6 separate regions of the Homo sapiens genome follow, and regions 1, 2, 3, 4 and 6 are each linked to region 5. Evidence: fine-mapped expression QTL. A gene starts in region 5. Each other region holds a variant in brackets. All regions are shown on one strand. Distances are between the middles of the regions. Region 1 overlaps SLFN12L (schlafen family member 12 like). Region 2 overlaps TMEM132E (transmembrane protein 132E). Region 3 has its middle 11 kb from the start of SLFN11. Region 4 overlaps LOC105371933 (a long non-coding RNA gene). Region 5 holds the start of SLFN12 (schlafen family member 12). Region 6 has its middle 33 kb from the start of SLFN11.

Evidence for each region.
Region 1: its variant is fine-mapped to the expression of SLFN12 in aorta (GTEx, PIP 0.95).
Region 2: its variant is fine-mapped to the expression of SLFN12 in follicular helper T cells (Schmiedel 2018, PIP 0.95).
Region 3: its variant is fine-mapped to the expression of SLFN12 in whole blood (INTERVAL, PIP above 0.99).
Region 4: its variant is fine-mapped to the expression of SLFN12 in whole blood (INTERVAL, PIP above 0.99).
Region 6: its variant is fine-mapped to the expression of SLFN12 in whole blood (INTERVAL, PIP 0.99).

Annotation. Positions count from the first base shown.
Region 1 is chr17:35,465,291-35,470,570 of GRCh38, reverse strand. It overlaps SLFN12L (schlafen family member 12 like), which reads left to right. Exons shown (of 5, transcript NM_001363830.2): 5 at 1-5,280. Among named protein-coding and RNA genes, the nearest start is that of SLFN13, 19 kb to the right of the region's middle. The variant T/C (reference allele first, on the strand shown) is at 3,042.
Region 2 is chr17:34,612,398-34,617,677 of GRCh38, reverse strand. All of the region lies in intron 1 of TMEM132E (transmembrane protein 132E), which reads right to left. Among named protein-coding and RNA genes, the nearest start is that of TMEM132E, 35 kb to the right of the region's middle. RefSeq lists enhancers at 1,124-1,724, 4,385-4,963. The variant T/CACACACACAT (reference allele first, on the strand shown) is at 2,161.
Region 3 is chr17:35,382,146-35,387,425 of GRCh38, reverse strand. No RefSeq gene overlaps it. Among named protein-coding and RNA genes, the nearest start is that of SLFN11, 11 kb to the right of the region's middle. The variant AAAT/T (reference allele first, on the strand shown) is at 3,194.
Region 4 is chr17:35,374,784-35,380,063 of GRCh38, reverse strand. LOC105371933 (a long non-coding RNA gene) reads right to left here. Exons shown (of 2, transcript NR_171638.1): 2 at 5,209-5,280. It also overlaps the pseudogene UFM1P2. Among named protein-coding and RNA genes, the nearest start is that of SLFN11, 3.8 kb to the right of the region's middle. The variant C/A (reference allele first, on the strand shown) is at 2,147.
Region 5 is chr17:35,429,786-35,435,065 of GRCh38, reverse strand. SLFN12 (schlafen family member 12) reads left to right here and starts at 2,566. Exons shown (of 4, transcript NM_018042.5): 1 at 2,566-2,878. RefSeq lists enhancers at 479-1,204, 1,155-1,394, 2,215-2,434, 1,363-2,562, 1,931-2,656.
Region 6 is chr17:35,338,163-35,343,442 of GRCh38, reverse strand. No RefSeq gene overlaps it. Among named protein-coding and RNA genes, the nearest start is that of SLFN11, 33 kb to the left of the region's middle. The variant A/G (reference allele first, on the strand shown) is at 2,900.

The DNA of each region.
Region 1 (5,280 bases), 36 kb before region 5:
GGAAGACCACCATCATCAAACAGTGAGTGCACCAGAACTCCTCCTGGCTGGCACCCTGAAGCCACCACTGTGTGAACTGTGCATTCAAGGTGCTACACTGGGACCCAGAGGCCTTGGCACACCTACAGCTGTGGAACATTGCAATGAGGAAAGATTGGGAAAATGACAAGAGCCTGTTATCTGGAACTTACAGGCGCATTTATTGTCTCCAGTATCACCAGGCCAGCCCCATTTGAAGCAGAGCTAAAGTGGAAAAATGATTTGGACTAAACGTTAACACATGGCAGACCAATTTCTATGGTTCTGTTGGCCAAGAAATGTGACCATGGGAGGATGAACGCAGGAACAATAGCCTCAAGATGGGCCAGATCTACATGGAACATAGTTTTGCAGTAGGAAAATATAAACTTTGGTGAAACCTTCAGATGCCTGATAAAATATTATATGAAAATGTACTCTTGAAGTTTTGATTTATGGAGGTGACTGAGTGTCAACACAGATGGACTAGCGCCATTGAAAAAAGACTTTATTACTTATAGTTCCAAGAGAAGGGGACTTGCTCTGTCATGCAGGGTCATGTGGTAAAGCATCCAGTTGGTTAAGGAAAGAGGAGCAGAAGTGAGGGGAAAATCTAATTCGGAACCTTTATTATTAGGGTTTCTGTGGGAAAGGTCCAGCTGGGCAGGGGGAACAGCTTAGGACTCAATAGTTTGAATAATTCTGATGGGCTTTGGGGCCTAGGGACGGTCCCCAGTTGTCTGTTACATGGCCCTGGGTTTATGTAGGGTAGGGAAAATATTGGCTCGATGTGTGAGTAGCTTAGAGTATGAGCTCTGGGTCACAGCGGGGATGTAAAGAATGTTGGCCATTAGTTTGGCCCTGTGATTAATGGATGCCAAATAGACAAGTACAGAACCTAGGAAAACACAGTAAGACCCATTGCCCCTGGGCCTATTTGGCATCATCGTAAGAAACCTGGGGTGGTAATAGTGGACTTATTTAAAGGATGGGGTACAGTTGCCCTAAATAGCCTAGAAAATATTTTATTGTAAGAGTAAGATAGAAGAACAATGTGGAAGTATAAAGAGCCCTTGTAGGCTGGTCCATAACTAAGTTCTTCATTTGCATGTCATTAGTCAAGAAAGTAGATCTGAAATTTTTGGAGGTTTTTACTATTATCTTGGTGGAGTTTTAAAGTGGGTTAAAAGTTTGAAATACATATATATATATATTATATATATATTTATATATATAATATATATATATTTTATATATATATATTTTATATAAAACAGGTCCTGCAGTCAGGTTGTTGGGGGATAGGAACTAATACATTAATAATGCATGTGTAGACTAGCGTGTGTGTATAACCAAGGAGGAGTGGTCATGGTCAGAGACACAGGGCAGGAAGTCACGGGGGAAAGCTTGAGGGGGTAGTAGGGGTAGGCACTGGGGAGTTAGTGGTCCTCTTCCCAGTGGGTTGAGGGATTGACTCAGGAGGCAACAGCCTTCAGAGAAAGGCAATACTATCCATTAATTTTTGTTATCTTTTTAGACACAGGGTCTTGCCCTTGTCACCGAGGCTGGAGTGCAGTGGTGTGGTCATAGCTCATTACAGCCTTGACCTCCCGACATCAAGAGATTCTCCTGCCTCAGACTCTTGAGTAGCTGGGACTACAGGTGTACACCACCATGCCCAGCTAACTTTTATATGTTTTGTAGAGATGGGGTCTCCCCATGTTGCCCAGGCTGGTTTGAACTCCTGGGATTAAGCAGTCCTGCCTCAGCCTCCCAAAGTGCTGGAATTATAGGCATGAGTCACTGTGCTTGGCCCTCCATTAATTCTTAGAATGACGTAGGTAGTGGTAACTACTATTAAATTTTCCTTCAGGCATAGGAGTGCGGGGTGTATGTTTTGGCAGAGAGCAAGGAGTATGCCAGGATGATAGGCTAAGCAGACAGCACACTCAGAAACACAATAGAATCCCTGATATCAAAGGAAAAAAGGCCAAATGTTCGGTGTGCAGTTTGTGCCTGAGAAGAGGCAGTCCATGGGTGTCACTGGGGTGAAGGTTTTTGTGTTTAGGGTGACGCCATGTCTGGTGCAGGGGTAAATTCATCTCTGACGGTAAGCTGGATCGATGTCATCTGAGGCAGCATAATCTCCAGCAGTGAGTGCCTATCCAGGAAAATGTCATCTAGGATATGGGTCTTGAGTATTTCTTTTAAGTAAATACAGACTCAGGTTGATGTGGGTCTTAGCATTTGCCATGATTGATTAAAACAATGGCTTGTATGGAGGGTTGGTGCCTCCAGATGATAAAACAACAAAAGCACCCATACCAGCAGTAAGATCAGCAGGCTGAGCATGGCAGCTCATGCCTGTAATCCCAGCACTTTGAGAGGCCAAAGCAGGTGCATTGCTTGAGCTCAGGCATTCAAGACCAGCCTGGGCAACATGGTAAAACCCTGTCTCTACAAAAAACATAAAAAATTAGCTGGGCGTGGTAGTGTGTGCCTGTGGTCGCAGCTTCTCAGGAGGCTGAGGTGAGAGGATTGTCTGAACCCAGGAAGTAGAGTGGGGAGTGAATCGTGATCACGCCACTGCACTCCAGCCTGGGTAACAGAGTGAGACCTTGTCTCAGACCAAAACAAAAAGCAAAAACAAACAAACAAAACAAAAAAGATAAACAGAAAACAGAATGGTGTGCAGCTGCATTTGACAGAGTTTTGGTTTTTGCTTGCTTGCTTGCTTGCTTCATGGTTGAAGTTTAGGCTCAAACGGGTCCCATATCAGATAAGCAGCTGCCTAGCCCATTGGACAATCACTATTAATTGGACCCCAGAGAATATACACACCTGCTGTGGCCTCCTGATGGGGGGGGTTTGATATTGAAAATCTATAAAAATAGGTTAAGGCCTGGGGCAAGATAAAGACCCATTGAGAGGTCCATTTGTTGGACTGGAACTTTAAAAGAAGTTGTTTGGGGAGACTCTTATGTCTCTCTGTTAAACTGGCTATTTGGGACCTATTAGGGTCA[T/C]GAAAGTTTTATTGAATGCCTGTTTGTTTCGGGAGCCCATTCAGTGTGTATTTTGCAATGTGAAATGTGTGCCTTGGTTATTACCTTGGTAATTGTAAGGCCTCATATGGTGGCCTTAATATACATAGACACGTGATTTTGGGTATCTAAGAGGAAAGAGGTTCTTAGTGTTCCTTAATCTGAAAGGGACAATTCATTAGGCAATGGCTCAATTGTTCAAAAGGAATATGGAGATGGGGCCATTTGTTGGCCAGGGCATCCAGCATTCGGTAATATTCCACCTAGCTCCATCATGTATGGTGGTTGGCAGTGCCATTCATATAGTCCGTGAACTTCTATTGCTGTTCACTCAGTCAATCCAAAGGAGCTTTCCAGGTAACCAAGGGGTCTGGAGGAGAGGTGACCTCCTCCAGCACTATGGCATCTGGCAAGGGACCAAGGACTGGGGACGTCACTCCCTTCTGCGTGTGAATATGCTAGAGAGCCCAGGACTTGGTAGCCTCCTTGAGACAGGTTAGAGACAAACCTGGGCCCTCTGAGAGGCTGAGCTTGCAGGGTGCTGTTTCCATGACTGAAAGCATAACAGGTAGCCAGGTATGGAGGGTCACAGACTCAGAATCTGTGAAAGCCTCTATGTCCAGGAGAGCCCAGTATGGAGCTAGTCATTTGTGGTTTTAATGGCATATAGCATGAGGCTGAGAGCCCTCAGGCAATTCGTAGCCATCACAGGTGGTCTAGACTTTAGGAGGCATGAGTAGAGCTTGTTAAAGTCTCTTCAGTAAAGGAATCAATGCAGGCACCAATGGGTCTGTCTGTTGGTATTAATTTGGATAGATTTTAGAGCCTTTTTGTTTGAGGCTGCCACATTTAAAGTGGGTTCATTTGTGAGTTACAGCTCAATGAGATTAAGTAAAATTTGTAAGTGAAGAATATTTTGCCATGAAAACCCAAAAAGGATGAAAAGATGTTGGACTCTTATGTCCATATGAGTAGATTAAGTGACATCTCCTTGGAGGAGGTTATTAATGTAATATCATATCTGTGCTCCCAGAGGAAGGTGCATGCACTTAAGATCTTGTCTGTCCCTGTCTCTTTAAAAAGAAGGCCATCTGAAAAGGCTATATACTGTATGATTCCAACTATATGACATTCTGTAAAAGGCAAGATTATGGAGACAGTAAAATGATCGGTGGTTTCCAAGGATTAAGGGAGTGGGAGGAATGAATAGTTGAACCACAGAGGATTCTTAAGGCCATGAAAATCCTGTGTTTGATACTATATAGTAGATATATGTCATTATACATTTGTCTGAACCCATAAAATGTACAAGAAGAATGAACGCTAATGTAAAAGTCGCAATGGATTTTGAGTGATTATGATGTATTAATTTAGATTAATCAATTGTAACAAATGTACCACACTAATGGGAGATGTTGCTAATGGGGGAGGCTATGCATGAGTGCGGGCAGTGGGTATATGGAAAATCTTTGTACTTTCCGCTCAATTTTGCTGTGAATCTGCTCTAGAAAAATTAAGTATTAAAAAAGATCTTGTCTGTAAGATGTGTGCATGATGGCAAAATTGTGAAGGTACTGAGGTGTAGCCTGCAAGAGGTATATTGTGTCTCTTCAGCAATGGAGGCAAACTACAGTGGAGTCTGTTGAAATAGGCACGGAATTGAACATATTGAACATATTAGCCAAGTCTGTAAGAACAGAGTATTTAGCAGTTATTGATTGGATAGAGTTAATAATGTTAATCATACTAGATACTGGCTATGAGGCCCTAGTCGACAAGACCACAGCAATAATGTTGTAGTCCTCCACCGTGAGGTGCCTGCTGCTTATTATTTTCCAGGTTTAAGAACAGGCAACACTGGGCTGTTAAACGGACAAGCAGCAGGGAATACTTATCTCCTTTATCCCTTTTATGTTATATAAATGAGGTTTTATGTAACAACTTTCAATCCTTCAAGGGCCTATTTTAACTTACATTGAACCATATTAACTATTTTAATGGGATTTATATAATCCTATTTTATCAAGCCAATTTTTGAGTGCCAAAAATTTAATTTTAATTTATTATTTATTGTGACATGGAGTCTATGTTCAATACGAGATACTTTAAGGCACTGAGTACAACAACTATGAGCAATTCAATCAAGATATAAAATAAGGCATAGCTATTTTTAAAAAGCTATTTAGCTACCTTTTAAAATTATATGGGGTACAATGTTTAA
Region 2 (5,280 bases), 820 kb after region 5:
CTTGGGCAAGTTACTTAACCTCTCAGAGCCTCAATTTCCATACCTGTGAAATGAAGAGCTTAGAACCTATTTCACAGAGTTGTGATTAAATAAGCAAATTGCTCGCTTGGTGTAATTTCTGGTACAAAGTTGGTGCTCAGTGTTCATTCGTTCATTCATTCATTCATTCATTCATTCAACATTTATTGGTTATTTAGTTCTGAGAGGAGGGAAGTGCTCACCTGTTTTTCTCCTGCACTTGGTGCATTGTCTGGCTCACGCAGGTCTTCTGCCAAGGTTGGTTAAGTTAAATAAGACAAGTACAGAGATGACAGGCACATGGAGCAGTGTCCCAAAGGCCTCCAAAGAGGCACCGAGGCTGGAAGGAGTGCCAGCTGTTGAGGGGCCCTAGAATTTGGCCCAGAAAGCTCTGTCACTGATCTGCTGCGTAACCTTGGGCAGTTTCTTTCCTTTCTCTGGGCCTCAGCTTCTTTCTTTGGGAGAAGAGGATAGTCCCTGCTCTGCATGCCACATGAGTGACCTAGAAGTAGGTAGCGGTTATGTCTGCAGGGAGTTCTGGACTAGGTAGCAGTCAGCTGGCCGAAGGAGAGGTGATGACTTGGGCCCGGTGGGCCCTGAACACTGCCTTCCCTAAGCACCAGGGCAGGGCCTCTATGTATAATACTATTGAACAGTTGGTGTCTTGGACAAAGATGCACAGCTCAAGGAGCAAACAGAGGTTAAAACCCAGCCCCGGCTCTGCTCGCCAAGCCCGGTGCCTAGTGAGGGGCTGCTTTTGTATCTTTCTAAATTGCACAAAGATACCACCTAAGCTGGTCCCCACAGGCATGTCCCCACCCCAGGCTGGAGCTGCAGTAAACCACATTGGGCCAGAGGGGAGAAGAGGGGTCCAGTCCAGAGACAGAGGGATGAGTGCCTCCCTGAGGTCTGGGGTCTGAGGGAGATGTCCACCCCATCCCCAGCCCTGTAGCTCCTCCCTCCTCCAAAGCAGCTCAAACCTTCCCCACCACGAAGCTGCAGACCCCATCTCTAGGACCAGCCTGGGTTCTCCTCTGGCACAGGCTAGTGTCTCCCTCATCAACCTGGAGGCTCCACTTTCCTCTCTCCACCGTATTCCCAACACTGAGTGCCTCTGGGTGACTGCAGCCTGGGCTGCGCTAGGAGCAGCAGGAGCCCCAGAGCAAGGACATGTAGCCGGGGAATACATAATCACTGACTCCATGCTGTGGCCACTCCCTCAGTGGGTGGGTGGGAGGAAGAGCCACTGAAGCCACCAGCAGCTAGCAGCCCCCAGATGGCTCTTGCCTACTCCCTGGCAGGTTGTAAATCCTGGAGAAGCAGCTTCCCAGTACTGTTATCCACCCCACCCCCATGCTTGGCTGGAACCCAATGTTGGAATAAAAGTCAGCTGTGGGGAGGGGCCAGCAGGAGGGGCGCCCCTCCTCCACTTTGCCCTGAATCCCCTCCCAGGAGACCTCCTGCCTGCTGACTCCCAGCAGCTCTGGTTTCCTGCCATCTGCCTGGGAACTCCCCATCTCTTAGCTGAAGGGATATCAGGGTCCCTCCCGTACACCTTACAGATGAGAAAAAAGGGTCACAAAGGTTTGGGTCAGGCTGGCTCTGTCATTTCTTAGCTGTGTGATCATGGGCAAGTGGCTTCACATCCCCCACCTCAGTTTCCTAAACTGTACAACGGAGTGAGAATAGCCCCTTTTTCACTGACTTGCTTTGCTAACAAAATGCCTATGTTATAAGATTACCTGTGAAATGTTTCAGCGGTGCCTGGCACACAGGCAGCCCTCTTTAAATGTTAGCTGTTCTCTGAGTGTTATTATCATCGTCATTAAATGGATCCCCCACACGGCCTCCTGAGTCAGGAGGCAGAGATCCTCCAAGACCCAGCGACCGACTCCCCTCTCTCCTATATGTGAACCCAATGCGAATCCTCTTGTGCTCTGACTGGGGCTCAACTTGCCTGCCGCTAAGGGTGGAGACCCTGCTGTTTTTTTTTAATCCCTGGCACCTAGCACAGAGTCTTACACATGGTCTGTGTGGAACAGAGGATTGTCGAGTGAATGAGTGAGTGAAGGAATGACTGGGATGGCCCTGGGAGGTGGTTGTGCTAACACACACACACACACACACACACACACACACACA[T/CACACACACAT]CTGTGCCAGTCTTCCCCTTGCAGGCACCCTTGCTGTACCCCATCCTGGGACATCTATCCTAAACTGGCCACTCCTTTTGCTCCCTCTGCCTAAAACCAGACCAAGCCTGCTGCTCAGTGTGACTTCCTCATCTTTGAGAGTAAGGAAGGAAGGAAATCACAGAGACCTAGGCAGAGGAATCGGGGAGGGGGGTACTAAACTACAGATTGGTGAATGAAAGAATGAATCAAGCTCAGCTAACTTGGGGGCTAGGTCTGCTTCCTGAAAGCCTGAAGGAGGACGAGGGTACTAGAAGGACAGGTGGCCATGAGACCCCAAGAAGCTGCCACCAGGACAGCCCCTGAACTGGCCTCCTAGTCCTGCTCCTGGGGAAACCCAGGGAGGGAAGACTTGCTGAAAGCATACAGCAAGGTGGTATGAGAGACTTACTGAAAACCAGGGCTCTTGTTTCCCAGTTCCCTGCTAGTCTCAGGGGTACCTTCCTCTGGCCCCTGGAGCCTTGCCACCTATGGGGAAGCAATCCCAAGAGGAGGCCAAGGAAAGGTTCCCTGGTCCTGGGAGATCAGCTGGGCCATGGTCCCTCCCTTCCCCTCTAGACTCTGCTCCCATGGGATCCTGTAAGCTGCACATGGCACTGAGGGACAGAGCCTCGGGGCACATGATAGAGAAGGAGGGTGAGAAGGAGTAGTTCAGGATAGGGTGATGTGGACCTCTAGGGGCAGGGACTACAATATGTACAACTCAGGCTGGTGTCCCTGGGCTGGAGGGGTCCCAAGGCAAGAGGGGCTTGGAGTTTGGAGGCCCAGTTGTTGCATGGAGAGTCCAGGCAGAGGAGAGATATCAGATGTAGGGGACAGAAGCTCTGGCCCTTCCAAGTGCACAGTGACCCCAGGCCCTCTGTGGTACCTGCTCTGTGAGCCTGCCCTGCAAGTTGTAAGCCTGTGTCTGTTAGTCTGTCTGCATCTGTGATTTCAGGATCAGGACCAGAGACATCAACAGGCTTATGAAGACAAGAAAGGCTTTGTACTTCCAATCAAGCATCGCTTACCCCTGGGAACAGCTCTTTTATTTCTGAAACACTGGAGGGACCCCACCCTCACCCTTACCCCAGCAGCGACCTGCAGGGCAAACCCTTGGCCCTAGAGCTCAGTCTGCCTAGCTGTAATGGGCTTTGATGTGAGGTCCCTTTTGTGATGGAAAGGGCTGCGTGGGGGTCTCAGGGATGTAGGAATAGGGGTCAGGAGGTTTATTTGTCAGCAGGTCTGGAGTTGGCCAGCGGCTGTGCAGCTAGAGACAAAAAGACACTGTTGAAGAGCCTCTCTTTCCTAGTGGAAAAGATACTCCCTACCACCCGGCTGCCTGGTGCCCAATCCAGGCCACATGAAACAGAGGGCTACCTGCTCCAGCCAGCATGATGAGAGCCCTCACCTTCACCCCCCAGCACCCTAGCCTCCTGTGGGGCCCAATTTCTTGGATCTCAGGATGACCACGAGGGAAGGGGGGAACAAGGCAAGGAGGCCACACTGGTGTGCTTGTGGGAAGGGCCTTTTGGAGACAATGGCCTACCTTTGCCAGCCTAGTCCTCAGCCAAAAACAGTGGGTTGTGTTTGGGGGCGGGGAGTGTCAGGGAAGGCAGCAGCAAGGACAACCTCCTGAGGATCAGGCTCCAGGGAGAGGGTCTGGACTACCTCCTACAGTCACGCCAGAGAGGAGAACTGCCACCAACCCCCCAGGGCCTGGAGTGTAGGCTTGACCTGCTCTGCTGGGCTACCTACCCATGGAGGGCTGGGGGAGGGAGAGAGACCCCCGCAATAAGGCAAGGGTGCAGAAGCTAGGGAGAAGGGCTGAGAACAGGGGAGAGGGAGAGAAAGCTAGGGTTCAAAGGAAAGAGATAGGGGGAGGCGGAGAAAGAGGGGACAGAGAGGAAGGAAATAGGAGATAAGCCTGGAGAGAGAAAATAGAGAAAACCCTATCCTGGAGTCAGGGGAGGCAGTGGGGGGCTTAGGGACTGCTGGACGGACTAGTAGTGAGGTAGAGCCAGGGCCAACCGAGAAGGCCCAGGAGGGAACCTGAACAAACCTGCACAGCCCTGGCCTGGGAACCCAGCCAGCTAAGCAGGAGCAGCGGGGGAGGGGAGTGCGGGGGAGGGGGCTGCTCTCAGAGTTACACTAAATGACTAATGTGCATTATCCTAATTATAGCAGAGCAAGCTGAGCCTTCCCACTGGCACAGCCGCCTGCATCTCCTAATAAACAATTAGCCGCAAACAACGGAAAAAGAATGTAAGAACGCGCGCGCGCGCGCGTGTGTGTGTGTGTGGGTGTGTGTGTGTGTGTGTGTGTAGAGAGAGAGAGAGAGAGAGAGTGTGAGTGCCACCATAGGCCTGCAGTGGGTGGAGAAGGTTTTGGAGCTGGGCTTTGGGAGGGGAGGCTCTGGGGGAAGCTGGGGAACCACCTCACCCCTCCAGCCCATTCAGCCCTGGGCAAGGTAAGAGCTGCAACAAACAGCAGCCTTAGAGGTGCAGGGTGGGGGACATGGGGTCCCCCTAACATTTAGAGGCTGCCTCTGGAGTGCTAGGTACTGGCTGAGTGTCACCCCAACCTCACAATAACTCTGGGAAAACTGCATCTTTCCCACCCCACTGCCCCCCCCAGTGACGGAACCAAAGCTGAGAGAGGCTGAAAGGCTTCCCCAAAACACACAGCTGAGGTTAGGCCCCACCGGCCCTCCTGATTTCCCTGGTCCTGGGCTCACTTCATGGGAGCAGTGAGCCTGGAAGTTGGGGACCAGGTGTAGAGATCCCCTGAGCTATGATCCCAGACCTGAGCTGGAGGTGGGCTTGGTCATGAAGGTGGGACTTCCTCACTGCTCTGCCAGGCACTTGTGTGTGAATGATCTCTGATGTTTTGACGACATTCCTGAGACTTGGACCATATTCTGATGCCTGTTTTAACTGAGGCCTAGAAAAGGGAAGATATTTGTTCAAGATCCCAGAGGTTTAGTGGCAGAGAGTGGGCTTTGGAACTCACACTCCTACCTCTGAGTGGGGGCTCTGCCGGGGCTCCACAGTTGGGTCCCATAAGCCAAGGCCCCTGCTGGAAAAGCCAGGGCATTTCCAG
Region 3 (5,280 bases), 48 kb after region 5:
CAAAAAAGGTAAAAAAAATAAAAAAGAAGGGCATTACATAATGGTAAAGGGTTCAATTTAACTAGAAGACCTACCCATCCTAAATATATATGCAACCAACATAGGAGCATCCAGATTCATAAAGCAAGTTCTTAGAGACCTACAAAGAGACTTAGACTCCCACACAATAATAGTGGGAGACTTCAACATTCCACTGACAGTATTAGAAGATCATCAAGGCAGAAAATAAACAAAAATATTCAGGACCTGAACTCAATATTGGACCAAATGGATCTGATAGACCTCCACAGAACTCTCCACCCCAAAACAACAGAATATACACTTTTCTCATTGCTACGTGGCATGTACTCTATAACTGACCACCACACAATCAGACATAAAACAATCTATGACCAACTCACAGCCAATATCATACTGAATGGGCAAAAGCTGGAAGCATTCTCCTAGAAAACTTGCACAAGACAAGAAAGCCCTCTCTCACCACCCTTCTTCAAGATGGTATTGGAAGTCCTGGCCAGAGCAATCAGGCAAAGAAAGAAAGGGCATCCCAATAGCAAGACAGGAAGTCAAACTATCCCTGTTTGCAGATGACATAATTCTATGCCTAGAAAACCCCATAGTCTTGGCCTAAAAGCTCTCTTAGCTGATAAACAACTTCAGAAAAGTTTCAGGATACAAAACCAATGCACAAAAATCACTAGCATTTCAATACACCAACAACAGCCAAGATGAGAGGCACATCAGGAATGAAATCTCATTCACAATTGCCACCAAAAAATAAAATACCTAGGAATACACCTAACCAGGGAGGTGAAAGAGCTCTACAATGAGAATTACAAAACACTGCTTGAAGAAATCAGAGATGACACAAACAAATGTAAAAACATTCCATGCTCAAGAATTGAAAGAATCAGTATGATTAAAATGGCCATACTGCCCAAAGCAATTTACAGATTCAATGCTATTCCTATCCAACTACCAATGACATTTTTCACAGAACTAGAAAAAAAAACTTTAAAATTCATATCAAACTAAAAAAGAGCCCAAATGGCCAAAGCAGTCCTAAACAAAAAGAACAAAGCTGGAGGCATCACGTTACCCAACTTCAAACACTATTGTAGGGCTACAGTAACCAAAACAGCATGGACCTGGTACAAAAACAGACACACAGACCAATGGAACAGAGTAGATTCCAGAAATAATGCCATACACCTACAACCATCAGATATTTCACAAAGCTGATAAAAATAAGCAATGGGGAAAGGACTCCCTATTCAATAAATGGTCCTCGGATAACTGGCTAGCCATATATAGAAGATTGAAACTGGACCCTTTCCTTACACTATATACAAAAATCAACTCAAGAAGGATTAAAGACTTAAATGTAAAACCAAAACTATATAAACCCTGGAATACAACCTAGGCAACACCATTCTGGACATGGGAACTGGCAAAGATTTCCTGATGAAGATGCCAAAGGCAATCACAACAAAAGCAAAAATTGACAAAGGGGATCCAATTAAACCAAAGAGTTTCTGCACAGCGAGAGAAACTATCAACAGAGTGAACAGACAGCATAGAGAATGGAAGAAAATATTTGCAATCTATCCATCTAACAAAGGTCTAATATCTAGCATCTATAAGGAACTTAAACAAATTTACAAGAAAAAAACAACCCCATTAAAAAGTGGGCAGAGGACATGAACAGAAACTTTTGAAAAGAAGACACATTTGGCCATCAAGCAGATGAAAAAAATTCAATATTATTTGTCACTGGAGAAATGCAAATCAAAACCACAATGAGGGCCAGGCGCAGTGGCTCACACTGTAATTCCAGCTCTTTGGGAGGCTGAGGTGGGTGGATCACTTGAGGTCAGGAGTTCGAGACCAGCCTGGCCAACATAGTGAAACCCCATCTCTACCAAAAATACAAAAAATTAGCTGGGCATGGTGGTGCACGCCTGTAGTCCCAGCTACTCTGGAGGCTGAGACAGGAGAATTGCTTGAACTCAGGAGGCAGAGGTTGCAGTGAGCCAAGATCATGCCATTACATTCCAGCCTGGGTGACAGAGTGAGATCTATCTCAAAAAAACAAAAGCAAAAACAACATGATACCATCTCACACCAGTCAGAATGGCTATTATTAAAAAATCAAAAAATAACAGATGCTGGCGAGGTTATGGAGAAATGGGAACACTTATACACTTTTGGTGAGAGTGTATATTAGTTCAGCCATTGTGGAAAGCAGTGCGGCAATTCCTCAAAGAGCTAAAAACAGAACTACCATTTGACACAGCAATCCCATTACTGAGTATATACCCAAAGGAATATAAATCTTTCTACCATAAAGACACTGATGCGTATGTTCCTTGAAGCGCTATTCACAATAGCAAAGACATGGAATCAACCTAAATGCTCATCAATGGTAGACTGGACAAAGAAAATGTGATATATGTACACCATGGAATACAATGCTGCCATAAAAAAGAATGAGATCATGTCCTTTGCAGGATCATGAATGAAACTGAAGACCATTATCCTTAGCAAACTAATGCAGGAGCAAAAAACCAAATATGGCATGTTTTCACCTATAAGTGGGAACTAAATGATAAGAACAAATGGACACAAAGCGGGGAAGAACAGACACTGGGGCCTACTTGGGGCCTACTATAGCTGATGCTTTCTGGAAAGTGCAGCCTCCTGGAAGGAGGCCAACCACCACAAAAATAGAGCATTAAACCACCAAAGCTCAGGACCCTCATGGAGTCTGTTGCACCCTCTGCCACCTCCACCAGAACAGGCACTGGTGAGAGACCCATAGATGGTTCACATCACAGGATTCTGTGCAGACAAACCACAGTACCAGCTCAGAGCCGGGTAGACTTGCTGGGTGACTGGACCCAGAAGAGAGATAACAATCACTACAGCTCAGCTCTTAGGAAGCCACATCCTTAGGAAAATGGGGAGAGTACTATATCAAGGGATCACCCTGTGGGACAAAAGAATCTGAACAACAGCCTTCAGCCCTAGACCTTCCCTCTGACAGAGGCTACCAAAATGAGAAAGAACCAGAAAACCAACCCCAGTAATATGATGAAACAAGGCTCTTCAATACTCCCCAAAAATCACACTAGTTCACCAGCAATGGATCCAAACCAAGAAGAAATCCGATTTACCCAAAAAAAAAAAAAAA[AAAT/T]TCAGGAGGTTAGTTATTGAGCTAATAAGGGAGGGACCAGAGAAAATCCCAGTGCAAGGAAATCCAAAAAATGCTAAAAGAAGTGAAGGGAGAAATATTCAAGGAAATAGATAGCTTAAAGAAAAAAAAATCAAAAATTCAGGAAACTTTGGACACACTTTTAGAATTGCAGAATGCTCTAAAAAGTCTCAGCAATAGAATTGACCAAGTAGATGAAAGAAATTCAGAGCTCACAGACAAGGTCTTTGTATTAACCCAATCCAACAAAGACAAAGAAAAAAGAATAAGAAAATACAAAAAAAGCCTCCAAGAAGTCTGGGATTATGTTAAATGACCAAACCTAAGAATAATCGGTGTTCCTGAGGAAGAAGAGAATTCTAAAAGCTTGGGAAACGTATTTCGGGGAATAATTGAAGAAAATTTCCCCAGCCTTGCTAGAGAACTAGACATCCAAACACAAGAAACACAAAGAAAACATGGGAAATTTATTGTGAAAAGATCTTCACCTAGGCACATTGTCATCAGGTTATCTAAAGTTAAGATGAGGGGAAGAATTTTAAGAGCTGCAAGACAGAAGCACCAGGTAACCTATAAAGGAAAACCTATCAGATTAACAGCAGATTTCTCAGCAGAAACCCTACAAGCTAGAAGGGGTTGAGGCCCTATCTTCAGCCTCCTGAAACAAACAATTATCAGACAAGAATTTTGTACCCAGCAAAACTAAACATCATATATGGAGGAAAGATACAGTCATTTTCAGACAAACAAATGCTGAGAGAATTCGCCATTACCAAGCCACCACTACCAGAATTGCTAAAAGGAGCTCTACATCTTGAAACAAATCCTGGCAACACATCAAAACAGAACCTCTTTAAGGCATAAATCACAGAGGACCTATAAAACAAAAATACAAGTTAAAAAGAAAAACAAAAAACAAGTCCACAGGCAACAAAGCACAATGATTGCAAAGGTACCTCACATTTCAATACTAACAGTGAATGTAAATGGCCTAAATGCTCCACTTAAAAGATGCAGAACCACAGAATGGATAAGAATTCACCAATCAACTACCTGCTGCCTTCAGGAGACTCACCTAACACATAAGGACTCACATACACTTAAAGTAAAGGGGTAGAAAAAGACATTTCATGCAAATGGACACCAAAAGCGAGCAGGGGTAGCTATTCTTGTATCAAAACAAACTTTAAAGCAACAGCAGTTAAAAGGGACAAAGAGAGACATTATATAATGGTAAAAGGCCTTGTCCAACAGGAAAATATCACAATCCTAAATATATATGCACCTAACACTGGAGCTCCCAAATTTATAAAACAATTACTAATAGACCTAAGAAATGAGATAGACAGCAACGCAATAATAGTGGGGGACTTCAATACTCCACTGACAGCACTAGACAGGTCATCAAGACAGAAAGTCCACAAAGAAACAATGGATTTAAACTATACCCCGGAACAAATAGACTTAACAGATATATACAGAACATTTCATCTGACAACCACAGAATATACATTCTATTCAACAGTGCATGGAACTTTCTCCAAAAGAGAACATATGTTAGGCCATAAAACGAGCCTCAATAAATTTAAGAAAATTGAAATCATACCAAACACTCTCTCAGACCACAGTGGAATGAAGCTGGAAATCAACTCCAAAAGGAACCTTCAAAACCATGCAAATACATGGACATTAAATAACCTGCTCCTGAATGAGCATTGAGTCAAAAACAAAATCAAGATGGAAATTTAAAAATTCTTTGAATTGAAGGACAATAATGACACAACTTATCAAAACCTCTGGGACACAGCAAAGGTGATGCTAAGAGGAAAGTCTGAAAGAGCACAGACAATTTAAGGTCACACCTCAAGGAACTGGAGAAACTAGAACAAACCAAACCCAAACCCAGCAGGAGAAAGGAAATAACCAAGATCAGAGGAGAACTAAATGAAATTGAAACAAAAGAATACAAACGATAAATAAAACAAAAAGCTGGTTCTTCGAAAAGATAAATAAAATTGATAGGCCATTAGCAAGATTAACCAAGAAAGGAAGAGAAAATCCAAATA
Region 4 (5,280 bases), 55 kb after region 5:
TTCAGCAAAGTTTCTGGATACAAGATTAATGTGCACAAATTAGTAGCACTTCTATATACCAACAGTGACCAAGCAGAGAATCAAATCAAGAATTCAACCCCTTTTTACAATAGTTGCAAAAACAAACAAATAAATAAATAAATAATAAATAAACAAACAAAATACTTAGGAATATACCTAACCAAGGAGTCAAAAGACCTCCATAAAGAAAACTATAAAATACTGCTGAAAGAAATCATAGACAACACAAACAAAAGGAAACACATCCCATGCTCATGGATGGGTAGAATCAATATTGTAAAAATGACCATACTGACAAAAGCAATCTACAAATTCAATGCAATTTCCATCAAAATACCACCATCATTATTCACAGAATTAGAACAAAACAATTCTAAAATTCATATGGAACCAAAAAAAAGAACCTGCATAGCCAAAGTAAGACTAAGTAAAAAGAACAAATCTGGAGGCATCACACTACCTGATTTCAAACTATACTGTAAGGCTATAGTCACCAAAACAGCATGGTACTAGTATAAAAGTAGTCACATAGACCAATGGAACAGAATAGAGAACCCAGAAATAAATCCAAATACTTACAGCCAAGTGATCTTTGACAAAGCCAACAAAAACATAAAGTGGGGAAAGGACACCCTTTTCAACAAATGGTGCTGGGATAATTTGCTAGTCCAATGCAGGAGAATGAAACTGGATCCTCAGCTCTCACCTTATACAAAAATCAATTCAAGATGGATTAAGAACTTAAACCTAAGACCTGAAAGTATAAAAATTCTAGAAGTTAACATTGGAACAACCCTTCTAGACATTGGCTTAGCCAAAGATTTCATGACCAAGGACTCAAAAGCAAATGTAACAAAAACAAAGATAAATAGCTGGGACCTAATTAAACTAAAGAGCTTTTGCACAGCAGAAGGAACAGTCAGCAGAGTAAACAGACAACCCACAGAGTGGGAAAAAATCTTCACAGTCTATAAATCTGACAAAAGACTAATATTCAGAATCTACAATGAACATAAACAAATCAGTAAGAAAAAAAACAGTCCCATCAAAAAGTGGGCTAAGGACATGAATAGACAATTCACAAGGAAAGATATACAAATGGTGAATGAACATATGAAAAAATACTCAACATCAATAATTATCAGGGAATGCAAATCAAAACCACAATGCGATACCACCTTACTCCTGCAAGAATGGCCATAACAAAAAAGTCAAAAAACAGTAGATGTTGGCATGGATGCAGTGAACAGGGAACACTTCTCCACTGCTGGTGAGAATGTAAACTAGTATAGCCACTATGGAAAACAGTGTGGAGATTCCCTAAAGAACTAAAACTAGAACTACCATTGGATCCAGTAATCTCACTGCTGGGTATCTATCCAGAGAAGAAGTCATTATTTGAAAAAGATACTTGCACACGCATGTTTGTAGCAGCACAATTCGCAATTGGAAAATCATGATACCAACCCAAATGCCCATCAATCAATGAGTGGATAAAGGAACTGTGAGATATATGTATATATACACCACGGTAGTATTCCATCATATATATATATATATATATATATATATATATATATATATATATATATATACACACACATACATACATATATACTACACAGCCATAAAAGGAATGAATTAACAGCATTTGCAGTGACCTGGATGAGATTGGAGACTATTATTCTAAGTGAAGTAACTCAGGAGTGGAAAACCAAACATTGTATATTCTCACTGATACGTGGGAGCTAAGCTATGAGGACTCAAAGGCATAAGAATGATGCAGTGGACTTTGGGGACTCTGGGGAAAGCGTGGGAAGGGGACAAGGGATTAAAAGACTACAAATATGTTGCAGTGTATACTGCCTGGATGATACGTGCACCAAAATCTCACAAATCACCGCTAACGAACTTACTCATGTAACCAAATACCACCTGTACCCCAATAACTTATGGGGAAAAAGTCCACTGCATGTCTATAAAGCAAAAACAGGTAGGAAAAATAATATTTTTGTAAAAACAGGAAGAAAATAGGAGTCATAAGGAAAAGTCCTCTGTTGGTTTATTATCTATATGTTTTTGTTCCCATTTCTTCTGTGGTAGCTCTAGGGCTTACAATATGCAC[C/A]TTCAACTTACCACAGTTTAATCATAGCATATGACTTTGTGAATTATGTAAGAGCTTTATAACAATACACACCCATTTCCTCTATTCCTAAAAACAAAATATTTCTATTATAAGCACCACAATACATAGTTTTATTCCTTTAAAAACTTAATTATTTTAAGAATAATTTTCAGCACAGTGGAGGAAGTCGTGCTACCCCGCAGAGTTGGCGTGTGTTCTAGATTCATCCTGGTACCACCATGTCGAAGGTTTCCTTTAAGATCATGCTGACATCGGACACGCAGCTGCCATACAAAGTACTCAGTGTACTTTGTACTTTCCTGAAAGTACACCTTTCACAGCAGTCTTAAAGTTTGCAGCCGAAGAATTTAAAGCTCCTGCTGCAACAAGTGCAGTTATTACCAATGATGGAATAGGAATAAATCTTGCACAGACTGCTGGAAATGTTTTTCTAAAACAAGGTTCAGAACTGCGGATTATTCCTAGAGATCATGTTGGAAGTTGTTAATATCTGCTACTTGGAACATACGATTGCCTTTCAGAATAAATATTGGTATTTTTTGTTGTTGTAAAATTGAAATCAGGCATTTAACATACTATGAAAACACTAAGAGTCAATGAATAATGAAAGGTGACTCATCTGTCCCTTTTTGTTGTTCATACTCTTCATATGAAGAGGGAATGCATAAGAATTAAGGCTACTACTGTCACAGAAGATCATAGTCTTTGCTACCTCACAACACAAATAGGTAGTTCATTGGGGGGAAATGAATTAGCCAACTGTGTTAACTGCAAGGTTCTGATAATTTTTTTTTTGAGAACAATTTGGAACATTAAAATTTACTGAATCTTATATATTCATCTGACTTAAAAATATACAAAGAATTACGGATCCTGGATGGCAATTTGCTTGATAGCATCTGATTTGCAGACTCATAGTTTGATTTTTAATTAAATATATAGGTTATGATGAAGTCAATAGACATATCAGTGAACAATTAACTATATTAAATTTTTATCATTTACTTTTTCTAAGATTAAAACCTCATGTATTATATAAATTTCAGTTTAGTATCCACAAAAAAATTAAAATAATAATGTAACTCTTATGTGTATAAATTGATGTCTCATACCAGGTTTTAATGTTGGACTTGCAGAATCCAATATTTGTAATGGTGGGAATTCACAATACAGTAGAAGCATCCTTTGCTGAGTTATAGATTCCTTTATCAATCTCTTTTGATACAACTTTTAAAACAAGTATCTTCAAGAAACCATTGGTGTTTTGAGGATAATATTTCTAAATAGCATTCAGGAAGAGAATATTATTGCACAGAAGATCTGATGATCAAAAAAAAAAAAAAGCTCAAGGAGATGCAGATTGAAAGTGCTGACAAGTTATATTTATTGAAGATCCAACTTTTAAGGAAGTGCTAAGATTAGTCACTCATGTGAATAAGAAGCCAGGAAAGGAAAGATGGGGAAACCTAGATGACCAGGCTTCTGTTAAGGAGGAAAGCAACGGAGGAAAACAGTGAAGGGGAACAGAAAAGTGTAGCAAAGTGTTACAGAAAAGCCAACTGGATAGACAACACTGCAGAAGGTAGAGGTTGGGGAGAACTGAAAGGGAAAACAAAATACTTGACATAGTCTTAAGTAGTAGAAGGCAATTAGAGAAAACTAAGTATCTACTGGCCTTGTCAACATACAGACTTCAAAATACCCCTTATGAGAATCCAAAGAATGATGTGTGTAAGGGAAGATTTTATGTGCCCTTCCAGAAGAAATCAGTATCTATGTAAATCTTGAAAGATGAAATCAAAGCTCATAATGATTCAGAATCAGTGCTTGCCCTGCTGTATTCTGTCTGAACGGTGAACTCTGGAAGCAGGGATTGTGTCTGTCTGGCTCTTTTTAGAGCTGGAAATGTAGTGGCTTTCATTAAATACTTGCTGTGAAGTCTCTCTAAGACCAATTATTATCTTAGCATGTTTCAGTATCTTCTCTGTTATAGGCTCTAGGTTCATTGGGGAAAAAGATATAAGAAAATTCAACAGACTCAGCATTTGAAGTGTGCCATTGGTAGTTGTTTATGAAGTTACCAGATATTCATATATGTGACAAATGAACAGCAGGATTATGAATTATCAAAGGAAAAGACATTTGCTGAGGTGAAAAACTCTGGTGTTTGAGGAAGTTTTTATTTTTATAAAATAAAAATATTTTAAAATTTTAAAATCTTATAAATAAAATCTTTAAAATATTATAAAATAAAAATATTTAAAATATTTTATTTTAAAATCTGATGTTCAAACGCCCGTTTCTTACAATAACTATTGAGCCTCAGTTAACCAGAAATTTGTGAACATCCATTTCCTGACTTTTTGCTTTAAATTTTTTCTCCACTGTTTCTAGCACAAAAGTTTGCCTGCTGTGTTGCAGAAATAAATTTATGTTGTCCTCTGCCATAAAGTGATATATTTAATATTTTTATTCTTTGTTTTTGAAAATTATATTGTAAGTTCCTAAAAACATTTTATTAAACAATTAGACATTTTGTTATTAAATAAATGTGATCTGTAATTTCTTTGTGCAGAATGATTTGAAGTATTGTATTTAGTTTACATGCATTGTGGGTTCATAATTAATATCCAATGAAAATACATTTTGTTATATTGTAAAAAAAGAATAATTTTAACAGTAAAAAAGAGATTTTTTATATTTATCTGCATATTTACTATCTTCTGTGCTCTTCATTCTTTTTTGTAGATCTGAGTTTCATTCAGGTATCATTTTCCTTCCAGCTAAAGAACTTCCTTTAATATTTTTTCATAAGAAAGATCGGCTGGTGACAAATTCCCTCAGATTTTCAGATTTCCTTTTTTTTTTTTTTTGTCTGAAGTCATTACTTTGCCTCCATTTAGGTAGGCCTTTTTTGTGGTTGTTATAGGATTCTAGGTTGACAATCTTTTAGCACGTTATAGATGCATGGTTCTGGATTTGGTACAGGTTTGCACAGACTCTCTGTAAACATGTTAAAGAAAAATGGAGAAGCTGCAACATGAGAATACGAAGATTTACTGAAATGAAAAGGTGGTCATTGAAAGAAAGTGGGTTATGAAACAGCATGAACA
Region 5 (5,280 bases):
GGGGCCTTTTGGGATATGCATTTTCTATTCCAAGTTGATCTGATATGTCATGCCTGCCACACACATTCCCATGGGAACAACTTCTTAATGTCTTTTGTTTCTGCCTTGGAAGCCATCCTGGTGCTCTGGGAAAATCCCTGCACTAGCATTTTCTTTTTCTTTTCTTTTCTTTTTTTTCTTTTTCTTTTTTTGAGATAGAATCCCTTGCTCTGTCTTTCAGGATGGAGTGCAGCCGTGTGATCTTGGCTCACTGCAACCTCTGCCTCCATCCAAGCGATTCTCATGCCTCAGCGCCCCCACACCCTCCCCAGTCCACCACAGTAGTTGGGACTACCAAGGCGCGCACGACTATGCCCTCTCACCATATTGCCCTGGCTGGTCTCCAACTCCTGAGCTCAGGCAATCCACCCACTTCGGCCTCCCAAAGTGCTGGGATTATAGACGTGAGCCACCGCACCCGGCCTGCGCTAGCTTTTTTTCTTTGTTTCTTTCTCTTTCTTTCTTTCTTTTTCTTTCTCTCTCTCTCTCTTCTTTCTTTTTTTCTTTCCCTCCCTCCCTCCCTTCCTTTCTCTCTTCTCTCCCTTCCTTCCTTCCTTCCTTCCTTCCTTCCTTTCCTTCCTTCCTTCCTCTTTCTTTCTTTCTTTCTTTCTTTCTTTCCCTTCCTTCCTTCCTTCCTTCCTTCCTTCCTTCCTTCCTTCCTTTCTCTCTCTCTCTCTTTCTTTCTTTCTTTCTTCTTTCCTTTTTTTTCCCCGAGACAGAGTTTTGCTCTTGTTGCCCAGGCTGCAGTGCAGTGGCATGATCTCAGCACACTGCAACCTCCGCTTCCCAGGTTCAACTGATTCTCCTGCCTCTGCCTCCCTAGTAGCTGGGATTACAGGGGTCTGCCACCACGCCCGGCTAATTTTTTTTGTATTTTTAGTGGAGACGGGGGTTTCACTACGTTGGCTGGGCTGGTCTCGAACTCTTGACTTCAGGTGATCCACCCACCTCGGCCTCCCAAAGTCCTGGAATTATGGGCATGAGCCACTGCTCCCAGCCGGCACTAGCATTTTCTAAGCCAATGACTGAAGAATAGTTTTTTAACTTCGGTGAGACTGTATCCATAGAGCTGGCGTCTGGATCAGATGAGAAGAAGAAAAGCGCAGCTATGTGCTTTCAATATATACGTTATTTAATGTGAATAGGTACTCTTCCTAGGTACCTTAAGATTTTAGAATAGGCAGTAGGCAGTTAATGCAGTCCAGAGTGGGGTAGGTGGAGCTTGCGGAGAAGGAGCAACTCAGACTTGCACATTCCCCTGTGATGAGTCATCGTGGCCTGTGTGCATTTCAAAAGCTATGTACTGAGACACCAATTCTTAGACAAGTTAGCAGGAAAAACATGTATTACCATAATTATCATAATAAGGGGGCTAAAGGAAAGCAAAGTGGCAGGAGGACTGTATCCGGCCAGACTAGCCTTTGGAGCATCCCAATAAAGGAATCTCCCAAATGGCCCCAAGATGCTCCCTACACTGCCAGGGGTAGGTATTTGAATCTGTCTGTCCTGGAGCAATCCGCTCCTTGCACCTTTGTCCTCTCCTGTCCATCCACAGCTGCCCTGGCCTGGTTCCTGGGGGCAACCGTGCTTTTAAGCAAGGGGGCAGCAGTGCTGCTCTGGGAATGCGAGTACAGCTGGAAAGGTTGAGTCACCCCTTTAGGGGCATGGTAAGAATGCCTGGTATTTCTTCAATTTTGATGAACCAAAATAGTGACAATTGCCCAAAGGCGCAGAGTCGATAATAAAGAGTGCGGACACTTCCGGAGCGCCAGCTGCCCAATAGAAATGCAGGCCACGCTGGGGAAGTGTGGAGCCGCAGCCCAGGATGGGGAGGGCCGGAAAACAGAAAAGGATTCGCGTTCTTTTTACTCTGTGGAGAGTGAGCCCGCGGACTGTAGCCTGGGCCTCGCCAAGTTCCTTTGTTCTTTGTTTTCTTTAAATTACCTTTTTTCTTTTTGTCTTAAAAAATACACATGGGTGAAAAAGAAACGAGAGCTCCCTAGAGATCACTCAGAGCTGTTTTCGTGGGTTTTTAACTTCCAGTTGCTCAAGGGTCCACGCTGGCATCTGGGGTGTGCTCGCACCTGCGAAGAATCCAGCTTCTAGGGAGCACCGCGAGCTGGTAAGTTGGTCCTGCTCCATCGCTAAACCTTCCAGCCTTAGTTTTTCATTTCTGGGGAGTCTGCTGGCTCGGGAGGAGGTGGGGCACTGGTAACACAACCCCACCACTCCCGGGAAGATCCCCGCACCCCCATCCCGGTCTGCTTTCTCTCCCTTCTGAAGCAGGAGAATAAGGGTCTGGAGGAAAATCCCAACTTTCCACAAACTTCCTTTGTAGCCCCTCCTTTTCTACATGGCAGATGAAAAACTGAAAATACCTCTGATTGGTCCCCTCCCGCAACCAATCAGACTGGTCTCCAGGGCCAAGTCTTCATGTGCATAGGAATGTAACTTTGTAACTTCGCTTTCTGCGTCCAATCAGATGTTTTCATAGGGCATAACTTTGTAACTTCACTTCAGCCTCCCATTGATCGCTTTCTGCAACCATTCAGACTGATCTCGGGCTCCTATTTCATTTACATTGTGTGCACACCAAGTAACCAGTGGGAAAACTTTAGAGGGTACTTAAACCCCAGAAAATTCTGAAACCGGGCTCTTGAGCCGCTATCCTCGGGCCTGCTCCCACCCTGTGGAGTGCACTTTCGTTTTCAATAAATCTCTGCTTTTGTTGCTTCATTCTTTCCTTGCTTTGTTTGTGTGTTTGTCCAGTTCTTTGTTCAACACGCCAAGAACCTGGACACTCTTCACTGGTAACATATTTTGGCAAGCCAACCAGGAGGTAAGCCCAAAGTCTGGGATTTATTTTTCTCCTTTCCCTTTTCCTTTCTGCTCCATACAGGTAAATCTCTCTCTTTCTCTTTTCCTTTCCAACGTGGGATCCTTGGTGGGTAGCGCCTAGACACGGAGGCGACTGCAGGTTTCTGGCCGGGGGCTACTCTCCAGTGCTGCCTTGAAGGCCAAGGAGTGAATGGGGATAGTTGCCCTGCCCAGAAGCGGGAAGGGCTCTTTTCTGTCTTTTCTGGTTGTGGTCCCTGATCCCTATGTGTGACGCAGCTTCTCCAGGGCGAACTCACACGTGTTTCAGGTGACTTAAACCTTCTTTCCTTATGTTAAATTCTTCCCTTCCCCTACTCTACTGGCTAAGGTTAAAAGAAACCCACCTAGCCTCCATTTCATATCATTAAAGTTCATGACTATCACTCTAGTGGAATGGGAACCATGGGAAAGCATGGCCTTATCAAATTATAAGGATGCTAGAAGTCAAGGCCTTCATCCAGAGACAAAAGGAAAGCTCACAGTAGGCCATCCCCTCTGGAGGGAAAACATGTAAAGTGGCACTGGTGACCACCTAAGGTCAGAGACGTCTGACGCTCTAAGATTGGACCCTAAAGGGGGATGCTCTGGAGGATCCTTTGGACCTCAGCCTCTCCAAGGGGGTTCCTTTGGTAGAGGTTCTTAGGCCTAGTACTAAGCCCTCCTTAGAATTTTCTCTTCCGGTTGCAGTAGTGTTTGGCCTCAATATTGTTTGGAATCTGGAGTTTGCTGTTGAATGGTAAAGTGGGATGGAGTTGCATGTATGCAGGCTCTTGTGCTGCTGTTCTAAGCAGGGTTGTGTCGGGTTAAAGTGTGATGTTCTCCTTTGGTGCTGTTTGGCCTCAGCGTTCTTTGAAGTGCGAGGAAGTTTGACCTTTAAAAATCAAACTGCCATGGAAACCGCTGACTTATAAATTGCTAAAGTTGTTTATAACCAATGTTTGGTTTCTCAAATCCATATTCCTGGGAAGACAATCAAAGCTTCAGGTACATTTGGCTACCCGATGGGCCATTTAAACATTTACAAAGGGATTTTATTCAATGTCACTTTCAATGCATGTTTTCTTGTTGTATAAAAGCTTTTCCCATGATTATGCTACAGTGTATTTTCACCAGGTAAAGAAAGCTTTTTATGGTTCACTGAGAACAATCAACCCCTTCACAACCTAGAACCCATAGGATAGATGTTCTCAGAACATCTACTGTAAAGGCCATAGTTACACAACAGACTTTAAATTCTTTTGTGAAAGTTATGATAGAATTGGCTGAACAGAGAAGTATCTGTGCAGCTGCTGGCACTTAGAGTCTATGGAGAAATACATTAAATGAAGATTAAGAGATTCAGTTGTAGGGGATTAATGAGGAGATTGTTTACTTAAGTTGGTAGATTCTTTATTTAGTTCATTATTTGATCTATTTAATTTTAACTGGTTTGGTTTATGGGAACCCTGGGCAAGGAGCATCCTCCAAACTCTTGGTATTATCCTCCCAATAGTCATCATAATAATAGGCTCCCTGGTGCACTGTATTCTCTCAAAGGTTTTCGATGTTTGCATGCAGCCATCTCTAGAATGTCAAATGGTCTCTCTTCAACTGGAATGATGAGAAGTGAAACAAATATGCGACCATGAGGACACTGTAACCTATGGATGGTGTGCTGAGACTGGAAACCCAAAATGATGGTAACTGAGAGCGGCGCTAAGGCCTTACGTTTTGGTTACATTCTCACCTAAGTGAGAACCTGAACAAAAAGGGGGAATTTTAAAAAACAAAATTGTGAAAGGCCAGTGTTTTGGACTGAGCTCATGGCCCCAACAGACCAAACCAAACCAAAATGGAGTTGCTCATTCTAAGACTTTAAGGAAACACATAGATCCTAGAACAGACCAAGTTTTTGTTTTTCTCCTGCAAACAGAATGTTTCAGTGAGCAGGACACCCTCCACCGGTAACACTTTCCTGTCTCTGTAGCAACTTCTAATAAACTGCAGGCTGTTGAGGACTTCAGAATGGTGGACTTGGAAGCTATAGGTCGGGTGGAACTTTTGCTCCTGCATGGGCTGGGGAGCAGCCCAGAAAATTTAAAGCATTACCAGAAAATTTAAAGAGCTGTGGGGCCAGTGAGCCAGGGATCTGCAGTGTTCAAGCAGAGCTAGAGAGGCAGGGAGGGCAGAGTGCTCTATGGTCAGGCCAGGCTTGGTGGGTGTCCAGACCTCCCAGGGTTATCCATCCTCCTGGAGTCCTGAACATGCAGGGAGTTGGGGAATAGGTTCTTTAGGTGAAATGCGACCAGGCACTGATGAACTGCATTGCTAGATCCTAAAAGAAAAACCAAGCACCCTCATGCCCTGCTGGTTTATTATCTAGAA
Region 6 (5,280 bases), 92 kb after region 5:
GGCTAGTTCTGATTTGTACAGAAATTGGTGCTTAGAGTGGGATGCTGCATAACAAAATAATTTAAATTGTGGCTTTGGTTCCAGGGCTGAGTGATGGGCAATGAAGAAAATATTATTGGAGGCTGGGAAAATGTCAACCCCTGTTTTGTAGCAGTGAAAGACTGGACAAAACAGTCACCTTTAATAACTTAGAATGAAGATAATGTATTAAATGAGCCTGTGGATTTGAGTGAAGAAGTAAGGAAACAGATGCTAGTAATATAGTTTGATCGCTACTAGGTAGGGTAATACAAAAGGTGGGAGGAAAAATGTGCTTGGAAAAGCACTAAACTCTTTGCAAGCAGGAAGGGAAGAAAATGGTCTACACATTTTTGGACTTTTAGAATAAGAAGTTGCAAATATTTCTCTTCTTCAACTAATAAAAAATCTGAGAATGTCTTTGGGTAACAAAGACAGAAATTCAAACTCAGTCTTTGGCAAAGAGGCAGTTAATAAGTAGCTATTAAACCTATGGTGGAAACCTCTGAATCAACTAAGATGTCAGCCAATAAATCCTTTCAGACAAAATTGCTCAGAGAAAAGAGCTTGAGTGCATTGCTTTCTGATGAAAGCCTGCTAATTCAAGGTAATATAATTAAATCTAAAGAGAGAAGCACATCTCAAAAATACTGAATTGTATTAGCACACAGAGTTAACTGGGACCGTATAGATTTAGAAAAACAACAAGAAGTTTTTGAGAAAGTTAAATTGCCAAGGAGCCATACCTAGATTTTTAAAATCCAGAAAGCAAAAACTGTGATGCTTTCAGACTAAACACAACCCTTGGACTCCAACATTCTTTGGGCAAGCAGTAGGTTGAGAAAGCTGGTTAGTTCTAAAGGAAGGTACAGTCCCCAGTTCCTGCTTTAAATGTGGTTGAAGAAAATAATAGAAAAGGGAAACTTTCCACTTTAAAAGTGGAAGAAGGGCAACAGAGTGAGACTCCATCTCAAAAAAAAAAAAAAAAAAAAGTGGAAAAAGATAATGACACCCTCTTGAGAGTGAAATCAGGAACCATGGGTTCTATTCAAGAGATACTGAATTCTTAGCCAGAGCAATTAGGCAAGAAAAAGAAATAAAAGGCACCCAAATTGGAAAGGACAAAATAAAATTATCTGTGTTTGCAGATGTCATGATATTATATACGGAAAATATTGTGGGATCTGACCAGCAGCCTGCAATCCAACGGGGCTCTTTCTTTGTTCCCAGGTGGATCGGCAGGTCAAGAAATAAAAGACACATGCGAGATAGTGAAAGCTGGGTCCAGGGGGGTCACCGCCTTCTGGTCTTGTGATGCCACGAATGCACTGGATATAGCAGCATTTATTATTAAGTTTAGTGAGGGTGGGGGTAGGTTAGTGAGGGATTTAGGGTCTTTGATTATGAGGTGAGATGGTCACATGGGGATGAAGTAATTCTTTAACATAACATCTGTATGCAGAAGTGCAGAATACAGAGATAAGAATTTACAATACAGTGTGTGTGTCAGTGATTTTTAACAGAGCCTTAAAACAGAAACACAGTCTATCCATAACCTATGTTTAGCAAGATATTAATCAGCAGTAACAGTTGCAGCAAAAGCTGGTTGCAAACAATTGATGGAAACAGGATGTGAAACTAGACAACCGGTGAGACCACAAATTCTCAGAAGGGAGTATGCCTTAACCCTAAAGAGACCTAGAAGAGCCATGGCAAGATAAGGGCATTTAAAACCCTATTTTATACATATGAATGGCCGCCCCTCATGCGTCCATTTATAGGCTCTCCACAAGGGTCGCATTCCATTCCCAGAGCTGTGAACATCTGCTTTTCTGGGATAAGAATATTGGTGATGTGAAACCTCCCTGACTGCACATCCGTTTATAGGCTCTCTGCAGGAGGAAGCACATCATGTGCTGTTGGCTCATTCAGGCAGCCCAACCTTGCATTGTCTTTACACAATCCTGCATGCAATTTTGTATTTATAATAATCAGGAGCATTTCATCTTTTATTCTGTAGCAATAGTTTCAGGGGGTCTCCCTACAAGAAAACCCTAAAAACTCCACAGGAACTGTTAGAACTAATTAACACATTTGGTAAAGTTACAAGGTACAAAACTAGAAATGCAAAAATCAGCAGTGTTTCTGTCCGATAACAACTATGCAAAATAGAAATCAGCCAGGCGTGGTGGCTCACACCTATAATCCCAGCACTTTGGGAGGCTGTGGAGGGTGGATCACTTGAGGTCAGGAGTTTGAGACCAGCCTAGCCAACATGGTAAAATGCTGTCTGTACTAAAAATACAAAAATTTGCTGGGCATGGTGGTGGACACCTGTAATCCCACCTACTCGGGAGGTTGAGGTGGGAGAATCACTTGAACCCAAGAGGTGGAAGTTGCAGTGAGTCAAGATCAAGCCACTGCACTCCAGCTTGGGTAACAAAATGAGACTCTGTCTCAAAAAAACAAAACAAAAAAAAAAAACACAAAAAAAAAAAGGAAAGAAAAGAAATCAAGAAAACAATCCCATTTACAATAGCTACAAAAAAAATACTTAGCAATAAGTTGAACAAAGGGAGTGAAAGATCTGCACATTAAAAATTATAAAACATTGATGAAAGAAATTGAAGACGACACTAATAAATGAAATGATATCCCATGTTCATGGATTGGAAGAATTAATATTGTTGAAATGTTTATTCTACCCAAAGTGAACTACAGGTTCACTACAATTTCTATCAAAATTCCAAGGACATTTTCCACAGAAATAGAAAAACAGTCTTAAAATTTCTATGGAACCACAAAAGATCCCAAATAGCCTAAGCAATCTTGAGTAAGAAGAACAAAGCAGGAGACTTTACACTACCTGATTTCAAAATGT[A/G]GCACAAAGCTATAGTAATCAAAACAGCATCGTACTGGCATAAAGAGAGTCATATAGACCAATGAAACAGAATAGAGATCCCAGAGATAAATATATACGTTCATAGGCCAAGCAACCTTGAGAAAGTTACCTTGAACATACATGGTGAAAGGATACTCTTTCCAATAAATAGTGTTGGGAAAACTGGATATCCAATGCAGAAGAATGAAATTGGGTCCTTATCTCATACCACATAAAAATAAACCCGAAATTGATTAAGGACTTACATGTAAAAGCTGAAACTATAAAACCACTGGCAGAAAACCCAAAGGGTGATTTATTGATGTTGGTCTTGGCAATGAATGTTTGGAATATGACCCCAAAAGTACAGGCAACAAAAGCAAAAAAAGACAAATGAATGACATAAAACAAAAAGCTTTTGCACAGCAAAGGAAATTATCAAAGGAATGGAGACAACCTACAGAAGGAGAGAAAATATTTGCAAACCATACATCTAATAAGGGGTTAGTATCTAAAATATAAAAAGAACTCAAACAATTCAATAGCAAGGAAACAAATAATTTAATTTAAAAATGAGCAAAGTATCTGAGTAGACATTTCTCAAAAGAAGACATTTCAATGGCCAATAGGTATATGAAAAAGTGTTCAATATTACTAATAATGAAGGAAATATTAATTAAAAGTACAAAGAGGTATCATCTCATCTCATACTCATGCAGCTATTACTAAAAAGACAAAAGATAAGTGTTGGCAAGGATGTGGAGAAAAGGGAGTATCTGCACACTGTTGGTGGGAACTTAAATTAGTGCAGCCATTAGAGAAAACAATATGGCAGTTCCTCAAAAAATTAAAAATATGCCAGGCTAAGTGATTCACACCTGTAATCCCAGCACTTTCGGAAGCTAAGGCAGGGAGACCACTTGAAGCCAGGAATCTGAGACCAGCCTGGGCAACACAACAAGACCTTATCTCTACAAAACATTTTTAAAAATTACCTGGGCATGGTGGCATGAGCCTGTGTTCCCAGCTGCTCTGTAGGCTGAGGCGGGAGGATCACTTGGGCTCACGAGGTTGAGGCTGCAGTGATCTAGGATGCCACCACTGCACTCTAGCCTGGGCAACAGAGTGAAATCTAATTTCTAAAAAAAATTAAAAATAAACATAGCTATCATATGATGCAGCAATCCTATTTCTGGGTATATGTCTGAAAGATATGAAATCAGTAGATCAATGAAGTATCTACAATCTCATGTTTGTTGTAGTATTATTAATAATTGCCAAGATATGGAATTAACCAAAACTGTCCATTGATGCATGTGTGATTAAAGAAAGTAAGACACACACACACACACACACACACACACACACGGGAATACTATTCAGACTTAGAAAAGAAGAAAATTCTGTCATCTGCAACAAGGTGGATGAACCTGGAGGACATTATGCTAAGTGAAATAAGCCAGCCACAGAAGGACAACTACTACATGATTCCACTTATATGTGGAATCTAAAAAAGTCGAATTCATAGAAGCAAAGAAAGAATGCCAGGGGCTGGATGGTGGGCAGAGGTCGGAACATGGGGAAATGTTGGTCAAATGGTAAAAAGTTTCAGTTAGACAAAATGAATAAGTTCTGGAGATCTATTGTACAGCATGGCAACTACAAGGAATAACAATGTATTGTATATTTAAAAATTCCCAAGAGAGTAGAACTCAATTGTTCTTATCACAAAACATACCTATGTGAGGTGACAGATACATTAATTAGCTGAGTTTAATCATTCCACAATGTATAAATGTATCAAAACATCATGTTGTACACTGTGAATATATACAATTTTATTTGTCAATCATACCTCAGTAAGGCTAGAGTGAAATGGAGGAAAACACCATGGGCAACCACTGACTAGAATCAGAACCACAGGGAATAGTCCCCACCCCTGGGTAACAGTGCCTCAGAGTGTCTGCCCAACAGCATTTCAAAATTTCTAGGGACCAGGGACTATTCTGTGCCTCCCATTCTTCCCCTTCCCAAATGAGAGGTGATTTTTTTTTTTTTGAGACAGGGTCTCACTCTGTCGCCCAGGCTGGATTGCCATTGTGCAATAGCCATCCCACCTCAGCTTCCTGAGTAGCTGCGATCACAGGCATACACAACCATGCCTGATACTTTTTGTAATTTTTTTTTAGAGATGAGGTTTCACCATGTTGCCCAGGCTGGTCTCAACCTCCCATACTCAAGGGATCCATCTGCCTTGGCCTCCCAAAGTGCTGAGATTATAGGCATAAGCCATCACTCCTGGCCTATCAAATGAGAGGATTATTAAATGTTATTCTGTTACTATTTATTTCACTGTTGTATAATGTGTGTGTATGTGTGAT